2 separate regions of the Homo sapiens genome follow, and region 1 is linked to region 2. The links come from fine-mapping of genetic effects on gene expression. A gene starts in region 2. The other region holds a variant in brackets. All regions are shown on one strand. Distances are from middle to middle.

What was found.
Region 1: its variant is fine-mapped to the expression of PYGM in hippocampus (GTEx, PIP 0.95).

What each region holds. Positions count from the first base shown.
Region 1 is chr11:64,781,719-64,795,767 of GRCh38, reverse strand. It overlaps MAP4K2 (mitogen-activated protein kinase kinase kinase kinase 2), which reads left to right. Exons shown (of 32, transcript NM_004579.5): 25 at 3,346-3,404; 26 at 3,493-3,596; 27 at 3,682-3,859; 28 at 5,306-5,374; 29 at 5,494-5,580; 30 at 5,809-5,879; 31 at 5,983-6,038; 32 at 6,144-10,850. The coding sequence ends at 6,231. Among named protein-coding and RNA genes, the nearest start is that of SF1, 10 kb to the right of the region's middle. RefSeq lists an enhancer at 5,258-5,759. The variant A/G (reference allele first, on the strand shown) is at 3,342.
Region 2 is chr11:64,756,552-64,764,692 of GRCh38, reverse strand. It overlaps PYGM (glycogen phosphorylase, muscle associated), which reads left to right and starts at 4,719. Exons shown (of 20, transcript NM_005609.4): 1 at 4,719-5,037; 2 at 5,989-6,090; 3 at 6,178-6,256; 4 at 6,344-6,447; 5 at 6,783-6,914. The coding sequence starts at 4,795. It overlaps SF1 (splicing factor 1), which reads left to right. Exons shown (of 13, transcript NM_004630.4): 13 at 1-87. RefSeq lists enhancers at 756-805, 856-955, 1,426-1,475, 705-1,578, 2,166-2,485 and 5 more.

The DNA.
Region 1 (14,049 bases), 28 kb before region 2:
GAGGCCATGTGTTTGAAATCAGCCTGAAAACACAGGGAGACCTTGTCTCTACAAAAAATCAAAAAAGTCTGGGCGGGGGGGCTCACGCCTGTAATCCCAGCACTTTGGGAGGCCAAGGCGGATGGATCACGAGGTCAGGAGATGGAGACTATCCTGGCTAACATAGTGAAACCCCGTCTGTACTAAAAATACAAAAAAAATTAGCCGGGCGTGGTGGCACATGCCTGTAGTCCCAGCTACTCGGGAGGCTGAGACAGGAGAATCGCTTGAACCTGAGAGGCAGAGGTTGCAGTGAGCCGGGATCACGCCACTGCACTCCAGCCTGGCCGACAGCAAGAGTCTGTCTCAAAAAAGAAAGAAAAAAAGCCCAAAAAATCAAAAAATGGGGCCAGGCGCAGTGGCTCAGGCCTATAATCCTAGCACTTTGAGAGGCCGAGGTGGGCGGATCATGAGGTCAGGAGTTTACGACCAGCCTGGCTAATATGGTGAAACCCCGTCTCTACTGAAAATACAAAAATTAGCTGGGTGTAGTGGTGCGCACCTGTAGTCCCAGCTACTCGGGAGGCTGAGGCAGAAGAATCACTTGAACCCTAGAGGCAGAGGTTGCAGTGAGTGGAGATTGCACCACTGCACTCCAGCCAGGGCGACAGAGTGAGACTGCATCTCAAAAAAAAAAAAAAAAAAAATCGAAAACTTAGCTGAGCATGGTGATGTAGGCATGGCGTTGTGTGTTGGTGGTCCCAGCCACTCAGGAGGCTGAGGTGGGAGGATTGCTTGAACCCAGGAGGTTGAGGTTGAAGTGAACTGTGATCGCGATCGTACCACTGCATTGAAGCCTGGGCAACAGAGCAAGACCTTGTCTCAAAAAAAAGAAAAAGGGAAATGTGGACAGTTAGCAGCCGGTACTGAGGTCCAGTTAGAGGGAGAGCTGGGAGGTGTGGAGAGGCCTCAGAGACCGGGCAAGCTTGGGAGGTTCGAAAGTGTGTCAGGGTTTCTAGGCAGGTGAGGTAGGGAATGGCACTCCAGGCAGGGGGAAGAGCAAGTATATGTTAGTATGTGTTGGGGCGGAGCAGCCTGGTGAGCTGGGGAGCTGTTAAGAGTTTGCCTGGGGGCCAGGCACAGTGGCTCACGCCTGTAATCCCGCACTTTGGGAGGCTTTGGCGAGTGGATCAACTGAGTCAGGAGTTCGAGACCAGCCTGGTCAACATGGCGAAACCCCGTCCCTAGTAAAAATACAAAAATTAGCCGGGCATGGTGGCGGGCGCCTGTAATCCCAGCTACTCGGGAGGCTGAGGCAGGAGAATAGCTTGAACCTGGGAGGCGGAGGTTGCAATGAGCCGAGATCGCACCATTGCACTCCAGCCTGGGCAACAGAGCAAGACTCCGTCTCAAAAAAAAAAGAAAAACAGAAGAGAAAAACAGTCAGATTCTGATTCTCTTTTGCAAGTTGAGCCAGTAGGATTTCCTGATGAAAGAGAAAGAGGAGTCAAGGATGGCTCCAAGGTTTTTGGCCTGGGTGTCAGGAAGAATGCAGCTGTCATCAGCTGAAGGTGGAGCAGTTTCAGGGGGAGCTGAATTCAATTTTGTTGCATGAACATGCTTATTAGATGTGCAAGTGGGACCTGCGTCAGTCCATGGCTTGGTGGGGCTGGGCTCTGAAGGGAGGGGCCCTGGGCTATGGGCCCCCGACATTGTCATGACCAGGTGGGTGGTGTGGGAAGCAGTGGACTGAGTGCAGAGGGTAGGGGAGGCCAGGCCAGTGGCTGCAACAGCTGGGGAGCTCAGGAGCCCCCTTCCTGCAACGTGCTCACTCCAGGACCACATCTGGAGCCCGGTGGCCTTGGGGCTTCCTGAGCTCAGTCCCCAAGTGAGTCTGCTTTGGCGCAGGACCTACAGGAAACAGGCCCATCAGAGCCCCAACAGGTCACAGGCAGCTTTGAGCTTGTGTTCGGGAAATGGCAGAGGCACAGTGAGCACTTTGAATGCAAAGAACAGAGAACTGGAGTTGTTTGGAGAAAAAACAAATACAAAATATATGCTTTTGTCCCATCCAAAGACCAGATGGGGAGGAGAGTGGGAGGAATGTGGGGAGAGGGAGGGACGAGGACCAGGGACAGTGAGAGACAGACATTGGCTTCCTCCATGTCCTGGCAGAAGGTACAAACAGGACATGGGCCACTGGGTGGAGGTGGCAGGGCTGCTGACAGGAAGCCCCATTCCCCAGAGGAAGAAACAGGCTGAGAGGGTCCCCTGGAGGGTTAGGGGACACTCAGTGGCCAAGGCAACGGCCCCTCTGATAACTTTTCCTCACTACTTCTACCCCGACAGCAAGGCAAGCCACCCCCTGGCCCCACAGGGCTGTTGCCTCTGCTGGAGAAGCAGAGGGCAGGCCATTTGCCTTTTGAAGTTCATTCACTGCCCCGGGCCTGTTTTCCCATCTGTGAAATGGGCCGTGTGCAGTCTGTGCAACCTGGTGGGGCTGGAGCCTGCATCCTCCCCAGCCCCTCCATGCTCTCATTTCTTCATTCCTTTTTTCTTTTTCTTTTTTTTTGAGACCGAGTTTCACTCTCATTGCCCGGGCTGGAGTCCGATGGCACAATCTCGGCTCACTGCAACCTCCGCCTCCTGGGTTCAAGCAATTCTCCTGCCTCAGCCTCCCAAGTAGCTGGGATTACAGGCACGCGCCACCACGCCTGGCTAATTTTGTATTTTTAGTAGAGACAGGGTTTCTCTATGTTGGTCAGGCTGGTCTCGAACTCCCGACCTCGGGTGATCTGCCTACCTCGACCTCCCAGAGTGCTGGGATTACAGGCGTGAGCCGTTGCACCTGGCATCATTTCTTTCTTTATACCCTGCCTTTACCTGACAAGGACTTTCAGTGACTCAAAATAGGTGGAAAGTCCTAATATGGGATGATAGGAGCTGGCCCTCTGTGAGCACACACGATTCCCAGCACTGCCGAGAGCACCTCCCCTGTATTAACTCATGAAGCCTTCACTGTGACTCTCTGGGGTGGGGCCCGCCATTATCCCCAATCTACAGATGACGAAACTGAGGCATGGAGAGATTAAGTGGCTTGCCTGGAGTCACACAGAGCTAGAAGCAATCCTGAGACCCAAACCCCTGGCCTGGATGGAGACACTCCCTCCTGGCTTCAGGGCTGGGAGACTGGCTTCAGATCCTCCACCTTTCCCAGCTGTTCTTGGGGCAAGTTACTCTGTGTCTCTGAGTCTCAGTCCCTTACTTGTAAAGAGGGAAGCTGATAGTGCCCACCTCATAGGGCTCTGCAGGGGCCTTGCCCATGGATGGCATCCCAGACACAGGCCCTGGTTATCACCCCT[A/G]CAGGCGCTTTGCTCTGTCCACCAAGATTCCTGACACCAAAGGCTGCTTGCAGTGTCGTGTGGGTAAGAAATGGGCTGGGCGGGGTGGGGCGGGGCCTGGTGGGGGGCAGCGCAGGCCCAGCCCGGTGCCCACTGCCTGCTCCCCTGCCAGTGCGGAACCCCTACACGGGTGCCACCTTCCTGCTGGCCGCCCTGCCCACCAGCCTGCTCCTGCTGCAGTGGTATGAGCCGCTGCAGAAGTTTCTGCTGCTGAAGGTGAGGGGCGGTGGGGGGAGGCCCAGGGCACCCTCAGAGCTCTGGGGGGAGAAATGGAGACCTGAGCATCCCTGCTGCCCCCTAGAACTTCTCCAGCCCTCTGCCCAGCCCAGCTGGGATGCTGGAGCCGCTGGTGCTGGATGGGAAGGAGCTGCCGCAGGTGTGTGTTGGGGCCGAGGGGCCTGAGGGGCCCGGCTGCCGCGTCCTGTTCCATGTCCTGCCCCTGGAGGCTGGCCTGACGCCCGACATCCTCATCCCACCTGGTGAGCAGAAGGGCCAGGCTGCTGGGGGTGGGTGTGTGTGCATGAGAGACCGAGGGAGGGAGGCAGGGAGGGCCAAGGCTCCCAAACTAGGCTCCCCACAGCCAGTGGCTCCACAGAGACCTTGAGGGCTGCCATGTGGGGTCTGGGGCCCACAGCCTCCCTTCAACAAGCTTCACCTGGGCTTCCATAAAAGGGTTCATTAGACGGAAGGGCTTGGCAGCTAAGAAAATCCTGGCCAGGCCGGGCACAGTGGCTCACGCCTGTAATCCCAGCATTTTGGGAGGCCAAGGAGAGAGAGGGGCTTGAGCTCATGAGTTTGAGACCAGCCTGGACAACATGGCGAGACCCTGACTCTACAAAAAATTAGCTGGGCATGTTGATGCACGTGTGTAGTCCCAGCTACTTGGGCTGAGGTGGGAGGATCACTTGAGCCTGGGAGACAGAGGCAGTTGTGAGCCATGTTCGCGCCACTGCACTCCAGCCTGGGTGACAGAGTGAGACCCTATCTCAAAACAAAAAACAAAAACAAAAACAAAAACTGGTCAACATTGCTCCGGGCTGCAGGGAAGAGGCAGATCTGGCAAGGCAGGGCCTAGAGGCCCCATTCTCAGCCAGGAAGCAGGACTCCAGGTGTTGTGGCAGCTTGGGGTGATAATGAGCAGTGATGGGTAAGGGAGAAAGGAGGGCGCACGTAGTTAAGGCACCTGGTGCCAGGCCCTGAGCCAGGGGTCTCACACACAGGATTTTATTCTTTATTTATTTTTTTATTTTTTGAGACAGAGTCTTGCTCTGTTGCCCAGGCTGGAGTGCAATGGCACGATCTCGGCTCACTGCAACCTCTGCCTCGTGGGTTCAAGCTATTCTCTTGCCTCAGCCTCCCGAGTAGCTGGGATTACAAGCATGTGCCACCACGTCCGGCTACGTTTTGTATTATTAGTAGAAATGGGGTTTCGCCATGTTGGCCAGGCTGGTCTCCAACACCTGATCTCAGGTGATCCACCCGCTTCGGCCTCCCACAGTGCTGGGATTACAGGTGTGAGCCACTGCGCCCAGCCCAGGATTTTATTCCTGATCCTCATGATAGCCTCTCAAGGCAGTGCCATCTTGTCTGTGTTATGAGGAAACAGAGGCTCCGAGAGGTAAAGTGATTTGTACCAGGTCACACAGTGACTGGGTCACGAGGCCTGGTCCCCTTAAACCTGGAGCCCTCCCGTGGCTCCCCGTGACTCCTCCTCCACTCCCCATGAGCCCTAGGACGGGTCACTCATCCTCTCAGAGCCTCAGTTCCCAGCCCTGGAGGGAGATGAGGTTTCCCAGCCCCACAGGGCTGTTGTGAGGCTGACGTGCCCTCATGGCCAAGGGCTGTCTGTAGCCTGGCCCCCGTATCCTCTTGGGGTTGGGGGACTGGTGGCTCAGCCAGGCCATGTCTCTCTTCTCTGCCTGCAGAGGGGATCCCAGGCTCGGCCCAGCAGGTGATCCAGGTGGACAGGGACACAATCCTAGTCAGCTTTGAACGTGAGTGCCCTGGGGGCAGGGCTTAGGGCAGGGGACTATGGAGGTAAGGCGACCACGTGGGTCTGCCTTCCCAGAAGGGAGCCTCCCCGTCCCCACTCACCAATTCCTTCCCTGTGCAGGCTGTGTGAGGATTGTCAACATGCAGGGCGAGCCCACGGCCACACTGGCACCTGAGCTGACCTTTGATTTCCCCATCGAGACTGTGGGTGAGTGAGCCAGAGGTGGGGTGCAGGCCTTTCCCTGGCCTGGAGCACGTTGTTGCTCAGGGGCCTGGGGCTGGCGGTAGGATGAGGAGGCAGATCCCCTAGCCCCTCTCCTGAGCCATCCTGGTCACCTGAGGTCAGTGAGGACCCCTGTGGCCCAGACCCAGGCTCAGGCGTGGCTGAGGGGGTGCCAAGATGGGTGCAGGGCTGATGGTGGCCTGGCCCCCATAGTGTGCCTGCAGGACAGTGTGCTGGCCTTCTGGAGCCATGGGATGCAAGGCCGAAGCCTGGATACCAATGAGGTGAGTGGGGCCCAGGGACCTTGCTGTCCCCTGCCTTGTGGTCCCTACCTCTTTGGAAAGGACCTACTGGAGTGGCCTCAGTGCTTCCCACCTGTCTTCCCAGGTGACCCAGGAGATCACAGATGAAACAAGGATCTTCCGAGTGCTTGGGGCCCACAGGTAGGCGGTGGTACCCTAGCCTCCCCTTCAGATGCCCCTGAGGCCAGAGAAGGGGCTGATGTACCAAGTGTCTCCCGCCCTGCCCCCTACTCCTCTCTCCTCCAGAGACATCATCCTGGAGAGCATTCCCACTGACAACCCAGAGGCGCACAGCAACCTCTACATCCTCACGGGCCACCAGAGCACCTACTAAGAGCAGCGGGCCTGTCCAGGGGCTCCCCGCCCCACCCCACGCCTTAGCTGCAGGCCCTTTTGGGCAAAGGGGCCCATCCTAGACCAGAGGAGCCCAGGCCCTGGCCCTGCTGGGGCTGAAGGTCAGAAGTAATCCTGAGAAATGTTTCAGGCCTGGGGAGGGAGGGGAGCCCCCGACGCCTCTGCAATAACTGGACCAGGGGGAGCTGCTGTCACTCCCCCATCCCCGAGGCAGCCCAGTCCCTAGTGCCCAAGGCAGGGACCCTGGGCCTGGGCCATCCATTCCATTTTGTTCCACATTTCCTTTCTACTCTTTCTGCCAAGAGCCTGCCCCTGCATTTGTCCTGGGAAACACGGTATTTAAGAGAGAACTATATTGGTATTAAAGCTGGTTTGTTTTAGTCCTCTGGTCCCTCTGGGTAGGGGGAGTGAACCCACCTCATCTCCCGCCTCCTTCCCTCCAACACACGTTTCTGTGGGCACCACAGAAGGGCAGGGCCCCCAGGGTTTTGGAGAAGCCAGGTAGAGGTGACAGGAGGCCATGGCCCCCAGCAGCCTTCTAGGGGCACTGTGCCTTCCCCTGCATCCTTGCTCAGAACTGACCCTCAGCTTTGCAGTTTGAGGGCTCTGCTGTAGTTTAGCACCCCAAGGACTCATGCAGATGGGGGGACCTCAACAAAGGGACTCTCATCCAGGGCACCCTTGCCCCACGTAGGATCTCACTGGGTGACCCCTGGAAGGGCCCAGGAGGAGCCCCCAGAGGGCTGTTCCCTCCATTCCCATGGAGGCTGCTGCCCATGGAGGTAGCCTGTGTGACCTGTATCCCCTGCCTCCACCTACTGCCTAGGTGTTAGACCAGGAACATCAGATGACAGCACGATCATCAGATTGGATGGGAAGGCTAGCCTGTGTCCGTCTACCAGACTCCCAAGGGCTGCCTCAGTGCCAGGCCCTGGGGTCACTACCAGAAACAGACCAGCCCCCAGGGAGGGCGTCCTCCTTGCTGGAGCCTGCATCTTGAGGGCATGGCCATTCTCCTGTAGCTTGTGCTTACGCTGTCATTCTCCAAGGGTCTGTCTGCTCAGCTCTGAATGCCAGGGCCCCCAGGGCTGGGCATCCTCTTTTGCCCCAGGCACTGATCAGCCGCTCTTGACTGGAGCCTTTGGGCAGCTGCAGCCCAGGAGGCAGGATGGGAACTGCCTTGAGGGCCCACAGCTGGGGGGCTGGGAAGGTGGGGGCAGGGTGGGGGGAACAGCTGGAGCAAAGGCCCCATGGTCACCCCTACATTCAAGGCAGGTGTTGGAGGAAGACCTTTGCACCTGGTGGGTGGCAATAAAGACTTGCGGAGTGACGTGGTAGGTGGATGGCAGCCATGCGAGTAGGCTCAGTGGTTCCCAGGGTGTCACACTGTCCCCTCAGCCACCCTCCAGCAGAGTTTCAACTGTTCTGACTCTGTCCAGTGACTGGGAGGGTTTCTTGGCTGGAATGGGGAGCCAGCCCAGGGGAGGGAACACATCTCTTCACACCAGGCATTCACACCCATGTTCCCGTGAGCCCCAAGGAGGGTGAGGGGCACCTTCCAAATTGGGGTCGGTGGTAACAGGGATACAAAGTGAATTCCTAACTTCCAATTTTCCAGATTTCTCGGAGGAATGTTGGGACCAGGGTGGGGTAAGTGGGGACAGGGAGGTGAGCTCCTGCTCAGCAAAGGCCCTGACCAAAGGCGCCCTGGGGAGGACTGGCTTTCCGTTCACCAACCGGCCAGCAGCAGACAGTGCCTCCTTGTGGCGGATCTTCCCGGACCTCAGATTCAGTCTGGAAACGGGGTTTGGACTGCAGAGTGTAAACTGCCAAAGTGGGGGCCTCCCATAAAACGCTTGCTGCCAGCAAAGGCAGGCCAAGAGCAAAGAAAGGCCGAGAAACCAGGGAATATGCACTGAGAGACTAACACTTTAAATTTTATTTATGTATTTTTAAATGCGTAACCTTTGCCCATGGTACATATTTTTTTAAATACAGCAGAGATATAATGAAGTCTCCCTCTTACCCCGTCCCCAGCCACCCTGGTCTCAGTTACTTATGAACCCTTCTAGAAGTATTTTGCGTATTTAAGCAATTTGGTATATTTTATTCTTGGCGATTTTTTATATACGTATTAACATATTCCACATACTGTACTGACCTTGCCCTTTAAAAATATATCCTGGGGGGCCAGGTGTGGTGGCTCACACCTGTAATCCAAGCACTTTGGGAGGCCGAGGCGGGCGAATCACGAGGTCAGGGGTTCGAGACCAGCCTGGCCAACATGGTGAAACCCCGTCTCTACTAAAAATACAAAAAATTAGCTGGGCATGGTGGCGAGTGCCTGTAATCCCAGCTACTCGGGAGGCTGAGGCAGGAGAATCGCTTGAACCTGGGAGGCGGAGGTTGCAGTGAGCCTAGAACATGCCACTGCACTCCAGCCTGGGCGACAGTGCAAGACTCCGTCTCAAAAAAAAAAAAAAGAGAAAAAAATATATATATATCCTGGAGAATATGAATGTATTAAATTATCACATGCACCCTGAAAAGATATGTATATATCCTGGAGAGTTTTGCGTTAAAGATCTCCCTTTAAAAAAAAATTTTTTTTTTTTTACAGCTAGTGGTATTCCATTGTGTATGTTTCCCATAACAAATGTTAATGACCTGCAGTGAGATCCCTATTGGTGGAAATTTGAGTTGTTTTTACTACTTTTATATTACAAACAATGCTGCAATAAATATTATTAGGCTAGTGCCCCTCTGTACATATTCAAGCACTTCTAGAAGATAAGTTCCTGGAAGCAGCATTAATGAGTTAGCGGTGGCTACATATGCCGTGGTGATAGCTGCTGTCCAGTTGCCCCTCCATGGGCAGAAACCTGTGGGAGGGTCAGACCAGACTCTTTAAGTCATTCTTGAGGACAAGTAGAAGGGACGTGGGCCCCCCCAGGATGTTCAGGTAACTGGCCCATACCCGGAGTCATCCTGGTGAAAGTCAAGGGGAGCACCATGATGTGTGCTTCGGGACGGCGGAGGATCTGCCGTGTTCCCTGTGGCATGTCCAGCACCTGCTCACTACCAGTGCTCAGGAGACCCTCACGAGTAAGGGAATGGACAAGATGTGGTGAAGAGGAGTCCCTGCAATCTGCCCTTGGACTGGGTGAGCCACCCCAGCTCGCTGAGCTTTACTTTCCTTAGGTTTACCATATCCAAAGCCAACTGCAGGGCTGTCAGGAGGATCAGAAATACTGTAACAGACATAATGCAATAACATAGATGACTCTTAGAGGTAAATTAAAACAGCACTTTATGCACAGTACGATAGCATATTATAAAGCTCAAAAACAAAATGAAACCATCTATTGTTTAGCAATACATGCCCAAGATACAACCCTATTAAAAAATCATGGGAAGGAAAAGCACAAAATCTGAGATGGTCGTCCCTGAGAGGAGTGTGGGATGGGATAAGGAAGGAGCCCAGGAATTTTTAAAGGTATTGGTAATATCTTAGCTCTCAGGTTTGGTGGTAGGTTCATGGGTATTTAAGTTATAACTCAGTTCCTAACTCACATAAGGTGCCACACATCCTTTTGTATGTATCAAATATTATGTCATAAAATTTTAGTTTGGGCATGGTGGTTCATGTCTGTAATCCCAGCACTTTGGGAAACTGAGGCAGGCAGATCACTTGAACCCAGGAGTTCTAGACCAGCCTGGGCAACATGACAAAACCCTGTCTCTACAAAAGATACACAAATTAGCTGGACATGGTGGCACTCGCCTGCAGTCCCAGCTACTCTGGAGGCTAAGGTGGGAGGATTGCTTGAGCCTAGGAGTTCAAGGCTGCAGTGAGCTATGAACTTGCCACTGCACTCCAGCCTGGGTGACAGAGTGAGAACCTGTCTCAAAAAGAAAAAAAAAAAAAGGAAAAAAATTTTTAAAAAATATTTAAAAGTAATCACCGAAAAAATAGAACTCGCTTGAAAGACAAGACCAAAAACGAAGAGGACGTTTCCCTAGATGGTGAAAACAAGTGGGGCGGAATCACTGCAGCGTCCTGCACAGAACTCTGGAATTGCCACTTTGCAGTTGCTGCCTTCTAGTGTGTATTGTTGAAAGACAGTTTTATTGAGGCATAATTGGCATACAATAAGCTGCATATAAAAATGTGTACGTGATGACTTTTGACATACGTGTACACCCGTGAAGCTATTTCCACAATCAAGATAATCACCATCCCCTTCACTCTGGAAAGTTTCCCATGCCCTTGGTAAGCCCACCCTCCTGCTTCTTGCCTCCCATCCCCAAGTAACAACTGTGCTGCTTTCTGTCACTACAGGTTAATCTGCACTTTCTAGAATGTATGTAAATAGAATCACACAGTATGTACTTGTGTTTTGTCTGGCTTCTTGCTTAGCTGAGCATAAGGATTTGCGAGTCATCCCTGTTGCATGCATTAATATTTTATTCCTTTTTATTGCCAAGTAGTATTCCATTGTTTGGATGCACCAGTTTGGTTAGCTGTTCACCTGTTGATGGACATTTGGACCATGTTCCGTTGTGAACTATTACAAATAAAGCTGCTATAAACATTCATGTACCTGTCTTTGTTGGATATATTCTATCATTTCTTGTGGGTAAATAGTTTGGAGTGGAAGGGCTGACTCACAGTTAAGTGTCGTTTAATTTTTTTTTTTTTTTTTGAGACGGAGTCTCACTCTGTCACCTAGGCTGGAGTGCAGTGGCCTGATCTTGGCTCACTACAACCTCCGCCTTCCTGGGTTCAAGTGATTTTCCTGCCTCAGCCGCCTGAGTAGCTGGGATTACAGGCATGCCTGGCTAATTTTTGTATTTTGAGTAGAGATGGGGTTTTGCCATGTTGGGCAGACTGGTCTTGAACTCCTGACCTCAGGTGATCTGCCTGCCTCGGCCTCCCAAAGTGCTGGGATTACAGGTGTGAGCCACTGCGCCCGGCCGCATCTTTTTCTGTTTTTCTTTTTCTTTTGAGATTGGAGTCTTGCTCTGTTGCCCTGACTGGAGTGCAGTGATGCGATCTCGGCTCACTGCAACCTCTGCCTCACGGGTTCAGGTGATTCTCCTGCCTCAGCCTCCTGAGTAGCTAGGACTTCAGGTGTGCACCAGTACACCCGGCTAATTTTTGTCTTTTTAGTAGAGATGGGGTTTCTCCATGTTGGACAGGCTGGTTTTGAACTCCTGGTCTCAAGTGATCTGCCTGCCTTGGCCTCCAAAAGTGTTGCGATTACAGGTGTGAAATACTGTGCCCAGCCTTTTTTTGTTTTTTGAGATGGGTTCTCATTCTGTCACCCAGGCTGGAGTGCAGTGGTGTCACCTCCACTCACTGCCACCCCTGCCTCTGGGGCTCAAGCCATCCTCCCACCTCAGTCCTCATGAGTAGCTGAGACTACAGGCTCACACTACCATACCCAACTAATTTTTTATTTTTTGTAGAGACAGAGGTCTACCCATGTTGCCCAGGCTGGTCTTGAATTCCTGGCCTTGAGTGATCCCACTTCAGCCTTCTGAGTAGTTGGGATTATAGATGTGAGCCACCTCAATGTATTTTTTATTTTTTATTTTTTGAGACGGAGTCTCGCTCTGTTGCCCAGGCTGGAGTACAGTGGCGTGATCTCAGCTCACTGCAAGCTCTGCCTCCCGGGTTCACGCCATTCTCCTGCCTCAGCCTCCTGAGTAGCTGGGACTACAGGCACCTGCCACCACACTCAGCTATTTTTTTTTTTGTATTTTTAGTAGAGATGGGGTTTCACCGTGTTAGCCAGGATGGTCTCAATCTCCTGACCTCATGATCTGCCTGCCTCGGCCTCCCAAAGTGCTGGGATTACAGGTGTGAGCCACCGCACCCAGCCTTTTTTTTTTTTTTTTTTTTTTTTTTTTGAGACAGGGTCTCCCTCTGTCACTCAGGCTTCAGTGCAGTGGTGTGATCACAGCTTATTGCAGCCTCAAACTCTTTGGGGTCAAACAATCCTCCTGCCTCAGCCTCCCAAGTAGCTGGAACTACAGGCACACATCACGCTCAGCTGATTATTATTATTTTTGTTTCTGTAGAGACATTCTCCCTATGTTGCCCAGGCTGGTTTCGAACTCCTGGCCTCAAGCAATCCTCCTGCCTTGCCTTCCCAAAGTGCTGAGATTACAAGTGTGAGCCACTGCACCCAGCCCTTGGTGCATTTCTCAATGCCTATAGTTATATAATGTTGCAAAAATGGAATCATGTAATACATTTGTTAAGCGTATGAAGCATTTTTTTTTTAACTTTGGATTTTTAGGCTGGGTTTGGTGGCTCACGCCTGTAATCCCAGCACTTTGGGAGGCTGAGGCGGGCGAATCACTTGAGATCAGGAGTTTGAGACCAGCCTGGCCAACATGGTGAAACCCCGTCTCTACTAAAAATACAAAAATTAGCCAAGCATGGTGGCGCATGCCTGTAATCCGAGCTACTCTGGAGGCTGAGTCACGAGAATCGCTTGAACCCAGGAGGAGGAGGTTGCAGTGAGCCAAGATCATGCCACTGCACTCTGGTCTGGGTGACAGAGCAAGACTCCATCTCATAAGAAAAAAAAAAAAAAAAGTTGGATGTTTAAGATGTGTTGGGCAACTTCCAGCCGCCCATTTCACTCTGCAATAGAGCATGTGCTGTGTATCCTTCTGTAGCCTTTGTTATGCTCAGATAATCATATGCAAACATGCACACATCTGTATGGGGTTTGTGTTACAAAAACAAAGCCATGTCATATGTATTTCTTTGTTAACACAGAACAGTAGTTACTTTAGGTTGGTTGGTATGAATTAACAGCTTTTCAAAGCTGCCTAATATTCTAGGTTATGGGTTTTCCAATTCAGTCGTTCATATATTGATGGAAATTCACTCTGTTTGCCCATTTTTACCACTACAAACAATGCTGCAGTAAATGCAGAAGACTTTGAAAACATTATATAATCACATGGCTTGTTTGGGGGCAGATTCCCAGGAGTGGGATATTGGATCGAAAGGGTTTATGTTTTCTTTCTTTTGAGACAGAGTCTCACTCTGTCGCCCAATCACAGCTCACTTCTGCCTTTACCTCCTGGGCTCAAGGGATCCTCCCACCTCAGCTTCACAAGTAGCTGTGAGTACAGGTGCATATTTTTTTATTTTTTGAAAGGGGGAACAATTTTAATAGACAACAGAATGCTTTCTAAAAGATTAACGATAGTAGGTGTTAGCACATTTATGTTCTGCTATTTTCATTTATTTTGAGATTCCTCATTATCACCTTAATTTGTATTTCCCTTATAGGCAGTGTCTAAATACTGGTAAATAAATTAGCTAGTCTCAGTCGCACAAACTCAGCACAGTCTAAGGTGGTACTGCTATAACAGAATCCCTGAGACTGGGTAATTTATTTATTTGAGACAGGGTCTTGCTCTGTTGCTCAGGCTGGATTGCAGTGGCGTGATCATAGCTCATTGCAGCCTTGATCTCCTGGGCTCAAGTAATCCTCCTGCTTCAGCCTCTTGTGTAGCTGGGACTATAGACATGGACCACCATGACCAGCATTTTTTTTTTATTTTTTATTTTTTTAGTAGATGTTGCCCAGGCTGGTCACAAACTTCTGAGCTCAAGAGATCCTCCCACCTCAGACTCTCAAAGTGCTGGGATTACAGGCATTAGCCACCACACCCAGTCTGGGTAATTTATAAAGAATAGAGATTTCTGGCTGGGCACGGTGGCTCACGCCTATAATCCCAGCAGTTTGGGAGGCCAAGGTGGGTGGAT
Region 2 (8,141 bases):
TTCTCTGGGCTTTTTTCGGTGTTAGATTCAACACTGCGCTAAAGCGGGGATGTTCCATTGAATAAAAGAGCAGTGTGGTTTTCTGGGTCTGCTTCTTTATTTTCTTTTTAATGCCTGCCCCGCCCGGTTTTTCTTTTCACATAAACTTCCTCTACCACCAGCAGCAGCAGCAGCACCAAAGGTGCCTTAACTTTCGTTCAGCACCAGGTCCGGGGGGGTGAGACTGTGGGTGGTTAATTAGGGAAGCCCACCACCTGCCTCCTGTGTGTGGCTTTGGTGGTGGGAGCTCAGTGTGTGGGTGGCTCCACAGTCTCCCCTTTGGTGACTAGTTAACATCGCTGAGAACCAATTTTGCCCCTCCTTGTTCACTGCTCATTTTTCTAGTCTCTGTCCTTTGAAGGCTTTTTCCTGGGGCTCAGACGTCCACGTTTGATGAGCTCCAGTGGTGATTTGTGCCTGGAAGCTGCCACCTAAGGCCCTGGGCCTGGGGAGGCATCAACACTAAAGGTCAAGCCAACTAATCCTGCCTGTCAGGCACAGAGCAGCTAAAATTAAAACCGCCAAGTGGCTTTTTTCCTTCTCTGCTGGTGACTTGCAGCCTGCCAGCGCTGTAGGCTTTGGCGGGGGTCGGGGGGACAGGATAAAGTGCCCCATCTTGTGCTTTGCAAGCACTTTTCAAAGGGTCTTCTGCTTTTTTTCCATGTCTTGGGCGGCGAGTGGGTAGTTACTGTTAGGGTTCCAGAAAAATCCATGTGGAGTCTCCACCAGGTAGTGAGGTCCTCTCCTGGGCAGAGGTGCCTTAGAGCTGCCCTGGTTCCACCTGCCTCTCCTTCCTTCAGGGCGGCTGAGGGACAGTAGGCTCCCCCAGCATCTGGCTGCTGGGGCCAGCAACTGGCCTGGGCTGCTTTCCAGCTGTGAGCTAGGGCTGGCTACTGCTGTTTACTGGGGTGTCTGGTCCCCCGTCCAGGAGGCCTGTGCTTTGCTATGGGTCTGCCAGGCTTGAGGAGCCCTCAGAAGCAAGGCAGGCTCAGTGCGTTTCCCCAGCCAAGCCCTAAACTTCGGCTCACCAAAAGGAGGACATCTTTTTTGCCTTTGTCCTTAAGTGGCAGAATGGGGGCAGGGCCTGGGGCCTGGCTACCCTCTTTGACCTTGGCTTCACCTCATTGCTTCTCCCACAAGCTTGGTTTCCCTGGTGGGCTCATTGGGTGGTTAATTAGCTCTTTGAAGCTCTGGAAGCGGCAAAGTGGCGCTATGTGGGTTTTAGAAATAAAATCAATAAATGACTTAACCACAGCTTAGCTATCTCCTCCGCTTCTCTCCCCCAGGCCAGCTCCATTCCTGTGCTCCCTCCCTTTCTGCTCCCTGCCGTCAGCTTTTGTTAAGGTTTTGGAGAGGAAGTGGCTGACTAAGGCATCAGTCTCCAAGGTGCTAGAGGCCCTGAAATGGAAGAGACAGCAGGAAGGCTTGGCCCTCTGAACCGTGGCAAGCACTTGCCTCTGGCAGAATCAGAGAGAGAAAGGCCTGCCCACCTGTCTTAAGACACCTGGGGTGGGAAAGCAAGCCATTTACTCCATCACATTGTGACAGGGCTGTGCTTGCCCCACCCCCTCTCCTCACGTTCATTTCTGCTGCTGTAGCAGCACTGTCCCCGTCCCTCAAGGCCTGGCAAGGCCTGGCAAGAGGAATGCCAGTGGGGAAAGGTCAGCCTCAGGGCTCTGTTACTGAGGTTCAGCCAAGGGCTCTGGAGAAACCCAGGATTGGTCCAAGGAAGGAGGCCGGGTTTCTAGTTAGAAACTTAGACATAAATAACCTCGAGTGAGTTCAGGTTGTAAAAGTGCTTCAGGGTTCATTAAACCTGCATACACAACACCAAGGAGGGGCGGAGGAAGCAGGGAAACAGATGAGATCGTGCTGCCCAGGTGTGATCATGCTGGGCTGGGGCATGCAGTGTCACCCCGGGACAAAGCCTGGAAACAGTGGGGAGTGATGGCATGACAAAGACGGAAAGAAGCCACAGAAAAGGTAGTTGGAGAAAGTTAAAAATTTCCCAGTAAAAATGTTCCTGAGAGCAAGCGCCCTGGGTGCAAGAGGGGAGAGTAGCTGGGAAAGGATGGAATGAACTTGGCCTTCCCTGCCTGTAAGATGTGGATGGTCTATGGGGATCGGGTCCTCAGTGGCAGGAACATAAAGTCTTGCAGGAAATAGGGGTCAATGCAAAGAAGGTGTGTGTGGCCAAAGCAGGCTGCCACGATTGGGCTGTGAGGTGACGGCATGGTTAACAAGCTACTGCCTGCCTGGCAGTGGACTGCCAAGAAGTCTCAGCTCTACTCACAGCAACCCTCCAAGGGACAAGTGCGGGCTGTGAAGAACCTTGGATGCCAGGCCAAGCTGGAGTCCAAGCTGTGCTTAGTGGAGGATGGGGATGAGGCCCAGGAGCTGAGGCTGGGGTGCAAACTGTGAAAGGGGAAGAGACCAGACAGCTGCCAGCATTGTTTTTTTGTTTGTTTTTGAGACAGAGTCTCGCTGTGTCGCCCAGGCTGGTGTGCAGTGGCGTGATCTCGGCTCACTGCAACCTCTGCCTCCCGGGCTCAAGTGATTCTCCTGCCTCAGCCTCCCGAGTAGCTAGGATTACAGGCATGTGCCACCATGCTTGGCTAATATTTGTATTTTTAGTAGAGACGGGGTTTCGCCATGTTGATCAGGCTGGTCTCGAACTCCTGACCTCAGGTGATCCACCCACCTCGGCCTCAAAGTGCTAGGATTACAGGCGTGAGCCACCGCGCCCGGCCAGCATTGTTTTTTAATGGTTTATGAAACACTTCTTAAGAGAAATTGGAAATTAACAGAAAAATGTAAGGAAAAGTTGTTTGCATCCCCGTGTCTGTGGAGGTGTATTTTGGTGTTTTTTTCCCGATCTTTTTTCTCTACTTGGAAATGTGGCAGGCACCACAGAAGACAGTGTGCCCGTGCCTTTTGGGGGCAGGGGTAGAGCAGGGCTTGGGAGCCTGGAGACCTCTGTAGGACTTGAAGTTTGGCCCACATACTAAGCCGGTGATTCCAGGGCTGGGTCTGCCATGGCTCAGAAAGTGATCGGAGGCCGGGCGCTGTGGCTCATGCCTGTAATCCCAGCATTTTGGGAGGCCAAGGTGGGCGGATCACCTCAGGTCAGGAGTTCCAGACCAGCCTGGTCCAACATGGTGAAACCCCGTCTCTACTAAAAATACAAAACTTAGCTGGGCATGGTGGTGGGTGCCTGTAATCCCAGCTACTCAGGAGGCTGAGGCAGAATTGCTTGAGCCCAGGAGGCGGAGGTTGCAGTGAGCTGAGATCATGCCATTGCACTCTAGCCTGGGCGACAAGAATGAAACTCTACCTCAAAAAAAAAAAAAAAAAAGTTCTCAGAAACAGCTTGGCTTTCTCCGAACCAGGCTCTCAATAGTATCCTGCAGCTGTCCAGGCTTTTGACCTGCTTCCTTGGCCTTCAGAACAGAACACCCAGCTCTTCCCCTCCACCGGCCCACCACCCGGGAGGCCCAAACAGCCTTTGAACTAGCACAAGGTCCTGGTTCCTTTCTCTTAAAGAACAGCAGGATCCGAAGCCTGCCCTCACAAGATGAGGAGGCAGCAGCTGAGAGGCAGGGATTTTTTTTTTTCTCATTGGAGAGTCTAAATTTGGTGAAGGAATCCAAAGCTCAGAAAGGTAAAGCAACCAGCTTGAGGTCACACAGCAAGTCAGTGCTGGGGCCAGAACACAGCAGTGAATGGGAGGATAGCCAAAGCCTCCAGGGAAGGGCTCAAAGCTGTGGGGCTATGCACACAAATGGGGTGAGGTCCTCGAGGTACAGATTAGGCACCCATTTTATAGGCCAGGTCACAGAGCTGGTTTACAAAATCCTGCTCAGAGTGTGGCCCCAGGTGGCAGGAAGAAGTGAAAGAAGGCCTCTAATCACTTCCTAAGCAGTGGAATCACAGGGAGAACTTACTGTCATTAAACCAGTATGATGATGGAGTGGGGAATGCCTCAGTTTCTCCCACCGCCGAGGGCCTATAGGACTACAGTTCCCAGGGCCCCGTGCTGCAGGCTAGCGGCCTCCCGCCAATGCTGGCCAGTAACCTGAGCATCCCTCTCCAAAAGGTCACTTCAGGGCTCCTTGAGGGACAGCAACAGGGGGAGCCTAGAGCTGCTCAGCTTCGGTGGGGGTGGAGTGAGGGCTGTGGCCCTGCCTCACACAACCTCCCTCACACCACCCCTGCAATGCAGGGTCGTGGGCCCCTTTCTCAAAGACATCCAGTGGCCTCTGCTAGTTGCACCTCTTCCGTCAGGGGACACTGACTTGGCTCCTGCACCACAGCCTGCAGGGGGTCCTGGTTCCTTTTGCCACAACACATGGCCTCCCATCCTGGTTCAGCCACTGACAGACAGCTCCCCAATCCAGCACTCTGCCTGCTCCTTCTTGTATCCAACCCTCCAAAAGGCAGGGACAAGGGACAGAAGACCATGTGCAAGGCCTGGAGGAAGTGGGTCAGCACAGGCCTGTGAACAAGCCAGGCCAGTCTTGGCGGCCCAAGTGGAGCTCACCTCTCCCTCCCCTCTCCTCTCCTCCCCTTGCCCTCAAAATAGCTCCCTGAGCTGCCAGGCCAAGACCCTCCCATTGCAGGGGAGGCGGGGCGTGCTGCCCAGAGCCAGGCTTTAAATCCCCTTGAGGCTGGGGAGCTCCACTCCTTGGCTGGAGGCAGTGCTGAGGCCGCCGTCCCCTCTACCATCAGTCCAGTCCGGCCCGCCCTCCTGCAGCCATGTCCCGGCCCCTGTCAGACCAAGAGAAAAGAAAGCAAATCAGTGTGCGTGGCCTGGCCGGCGTGGAGAACGTGACTGAGCTGAAAAAGAACTTCAACCGGCACCTGCATTTCACACTCGTAAAGGACCGCAATGTGGCCACCCCACGAGACTACTACTTTGCTCTGGCCCATACCGTGCGCGACCACCTCGTGGGGCGCTGGATCCGCACGCAGCAGCACTACTATGAGAAGGACCCCAAGGTGCTGCTGGGGAGCCTGGGGTGGGGGTATGGGCTGAAGGCGCTGCCAGGGAGCTGGCGATCTTGACTTAAGTGGCTGCCCCTCGTCACTCTAGGTTCTTGGGGGTGGAGAATCCAGGGGTGCCAGGCACAAGGGGTGCTGGGACAATCTGAGGGAGAAACCTGGGGCAGGAGTGGGGGTCAGGGAGCTCAGAGCAGGTGGGCTGGCTGCAAAGGGTCAGTGCCCACTCGGAGAAGGTTGGAGTGGGTGCTGGTGGGCAGGACGGCGCCTGTGGCCTGGCTGGGCCCAGGTGGAAGGACACATCAGTTGCTGCATGTATGCGCGGTGTGCCTGTGCAGCAGGCGGGGCTGGGGCAGCTGGGGCGGCAGAGATCAAGTGTCCGGTGGGGTCACTGGTAAATGTCAGCAACCTGACACGCCTCGGTGGGGAGTGGGGGAGGGGCGGGCAGACGGCCCAGGAGGGGACCCAGGAAACTGGGAGACCAGGCACTGGCAGCATCCTAGTTTCTGGTGCCTCTGGGTCTCCTTGGGATTGAGGCTTGAGGGCCAAGGGGAACTGGACAGTGCAAGGATGGGAGGTGACAGTCTCTAGCCCAGTCTCTAGCCACTGTGTGACCTTGAGCAAATGACTTTTTTCTCTGGGGGTGTGTGCAGGGGGAAGGGGTGCCCATTCTCCCGAGTACCTCAGTCCCTGAAGTGGGTATGGCCAGCGCTATTTCCCAGATGAGGAGACTGAGGCCAAAGAGAGTGATTTGTCCAAAGTCAGAGGAATGCTGGGACCAGAACCTTAACCGCTGGGCCCCAAAGCCTGAGACAGGGAGAAACAAATTGGGGACAGGGATGGGACTGCTGAGCAGGGCAGGCGGGCCAGAGGTCCAGGCGTGGCTGGGCCTGGCTGAGTGTTGGTGTGTGGCCCTGACCCCATTCCCTGCCCATCCGTCTCTCTGGGCAGAGGATCTACTACCTGTCTTTAGAGTTCTATATGGGACGGACGCTACAGAACACCATGGTGAACCTGGCCTTAGAGAATGCCTGTGACGAGGCCACCTACCAGGTGTGTGTGGGGTGGGGCAAGCCGTGGGGACTGGGGGATTCCACTGCTGACACTTGACCCTGACCACTGTCACCCTCACTCCTCCAGCTGGGCCTGGACATGGAGGAGCTGGAGGAAATTGAGGAGGATGCGGGGCTGGGCAACGGGGGCCTGGGCCGGCTGGCAGGTAAGAAGACAGGGCCGTGAGGGTGGAGTGGGCCGATGGGGTCCTCCTTGCTGGGTCCCTGACAGCCACCTCCCTGCACACCCCCAGCCTGCTTTCTTGACTCCATGGCAACACTGGGCCTGGCCGCCTATGGCTACGGGATTCGCTATGAGTTTGGGATTTTTAACCAGAAGATCTCCGGGGGCTGGCAGGTGAGCAGCCTTGGCTCTAACTTGTGGGGTCTAGTCAGGATGGGGAAGACCCCCACTTGTTTATCATCTCTGGCAAGGTCCGAAACAGCCCCGCAAGCTCTGTGGAAAGCATCCTTGCTGCTCCCCACCCCCCGACCCAAAGCCAGCTGGTGCCCCTGAAACAGGTGGTCCGTGTCCCACTCGATAGCCCAGCAGACCAGGGGCCCACCTCAGAGCTCCTGACTTATACTTGGTGTAGGGTACACCGGCCCACGGCCCCCACCCTGCCCCACCGTGCACTGTGAGTGCCTGTACTGATACTGCTGGCCTTTCTCCCTGACCTGCCTTGGGTGCAGATGGAGGAGGCCGATGACTGGCTTCGCTACGGCAACCCCTGGGAGAAGGCCCGGCCCGAGTTCACGCTACCTGTGCACTTCTACGGCCATGTGGAGCACACCAGCCAGGGTGCCAAGTGGGTGGACACACAGGTGAGGATGAAGCTGGGGGTCAGGGGAGCCCAGAGAAGGGGAGGGAAGAGAAGGAAGCCCAGAGAGGAAGCAGGACCCAGTGTATTTTACACCTGAGGATGCTGAGGCTCAGAGAGGTTAAGTGACTTACTCAAAGTCACACAGCTGAAGCCAGGAGAGACTGGAGACAGGGACACAGGGGAGCCAGCCTAAGTGCAGAGTCTGGAAGGGGAGAGAGGCTGCCCTGCTCCCCCAGTGTCTCCCCATGACCTGGCTCCACTCCACACCATGAGATTTATCAAAGGACCATCTTGGCGACTTGAGTCTGCCCTGAACATCTCGACAGCAGCAGCCCAGAAAGGGGGACAGGAGAAAACTGGAGCCTTCCGAAAGGAATTCACTCATCACACAGCAAGTTAGAGGGATCCTAAAACCAAACCAAATCTAGACACAGTGGCTCATGCCCGTAATCCCAGCACTTTAGAAGGCCGAGGTGACAGTATGGCTTGAGTTCAGGATTTCAAGACCAGCCTGGGCAACATAGAGAGACCCTGTCTCTACAAAAAATAAAAAAAATAGACTGGGGCAGTGGGTCATACCTGTAATCCCAGCACTTTGGGAGGCCAAGGTGAGCAGATTGCTTGAGCTCAGGAGTTCGAGACCAGCCTGGACAAGAGGGCGAAACCCCGTCTACAAAAAATACAAAAATTAGCCAGGCGTGATGGTGTGCGCCTGTAGTCCCAGCTACTCGGGTGGCTGAAGTGGGAGAACTGCTTGAGCCCAGGAGCCTGGGTGACAGAGCCAGACCTCGTCTCAAAAAAAAAATTTAAAAAATTAGCCAGGGTGCTGGTGCATGCCTGTAGTCCCAGCTACTCTGAGGCTTCAGTGGGAGGATCACTTGAGTCCAGGATTTAAAGGCTGCAGTGAGCTATGATTGTACAACTGCACTCCAGCCAGCCTGTGTGACAGAGTGAGACTGTTTCAAAAAGCAAAAAGACCAAAAACTGAAAACCTTAAAACCAAACCAGGTGTACAAATCCCAGTTTAGGCCGGGCGTGGTGACTTACACCTGTAATCTCAGCACTTTGGGAGGCCAAGGCAGGTGGATCACCTGAGGTCAGGAGTTCAAGACTAGCCTGACCAATATGGTGAAACCCAGTCTCTACTAAAAACACAAAAACATTAGCCGGGCATGGTGGCACGTGCCTGTAATCCCAGCCACTCAGGAGGCTGAAGCCAGAGAATCGC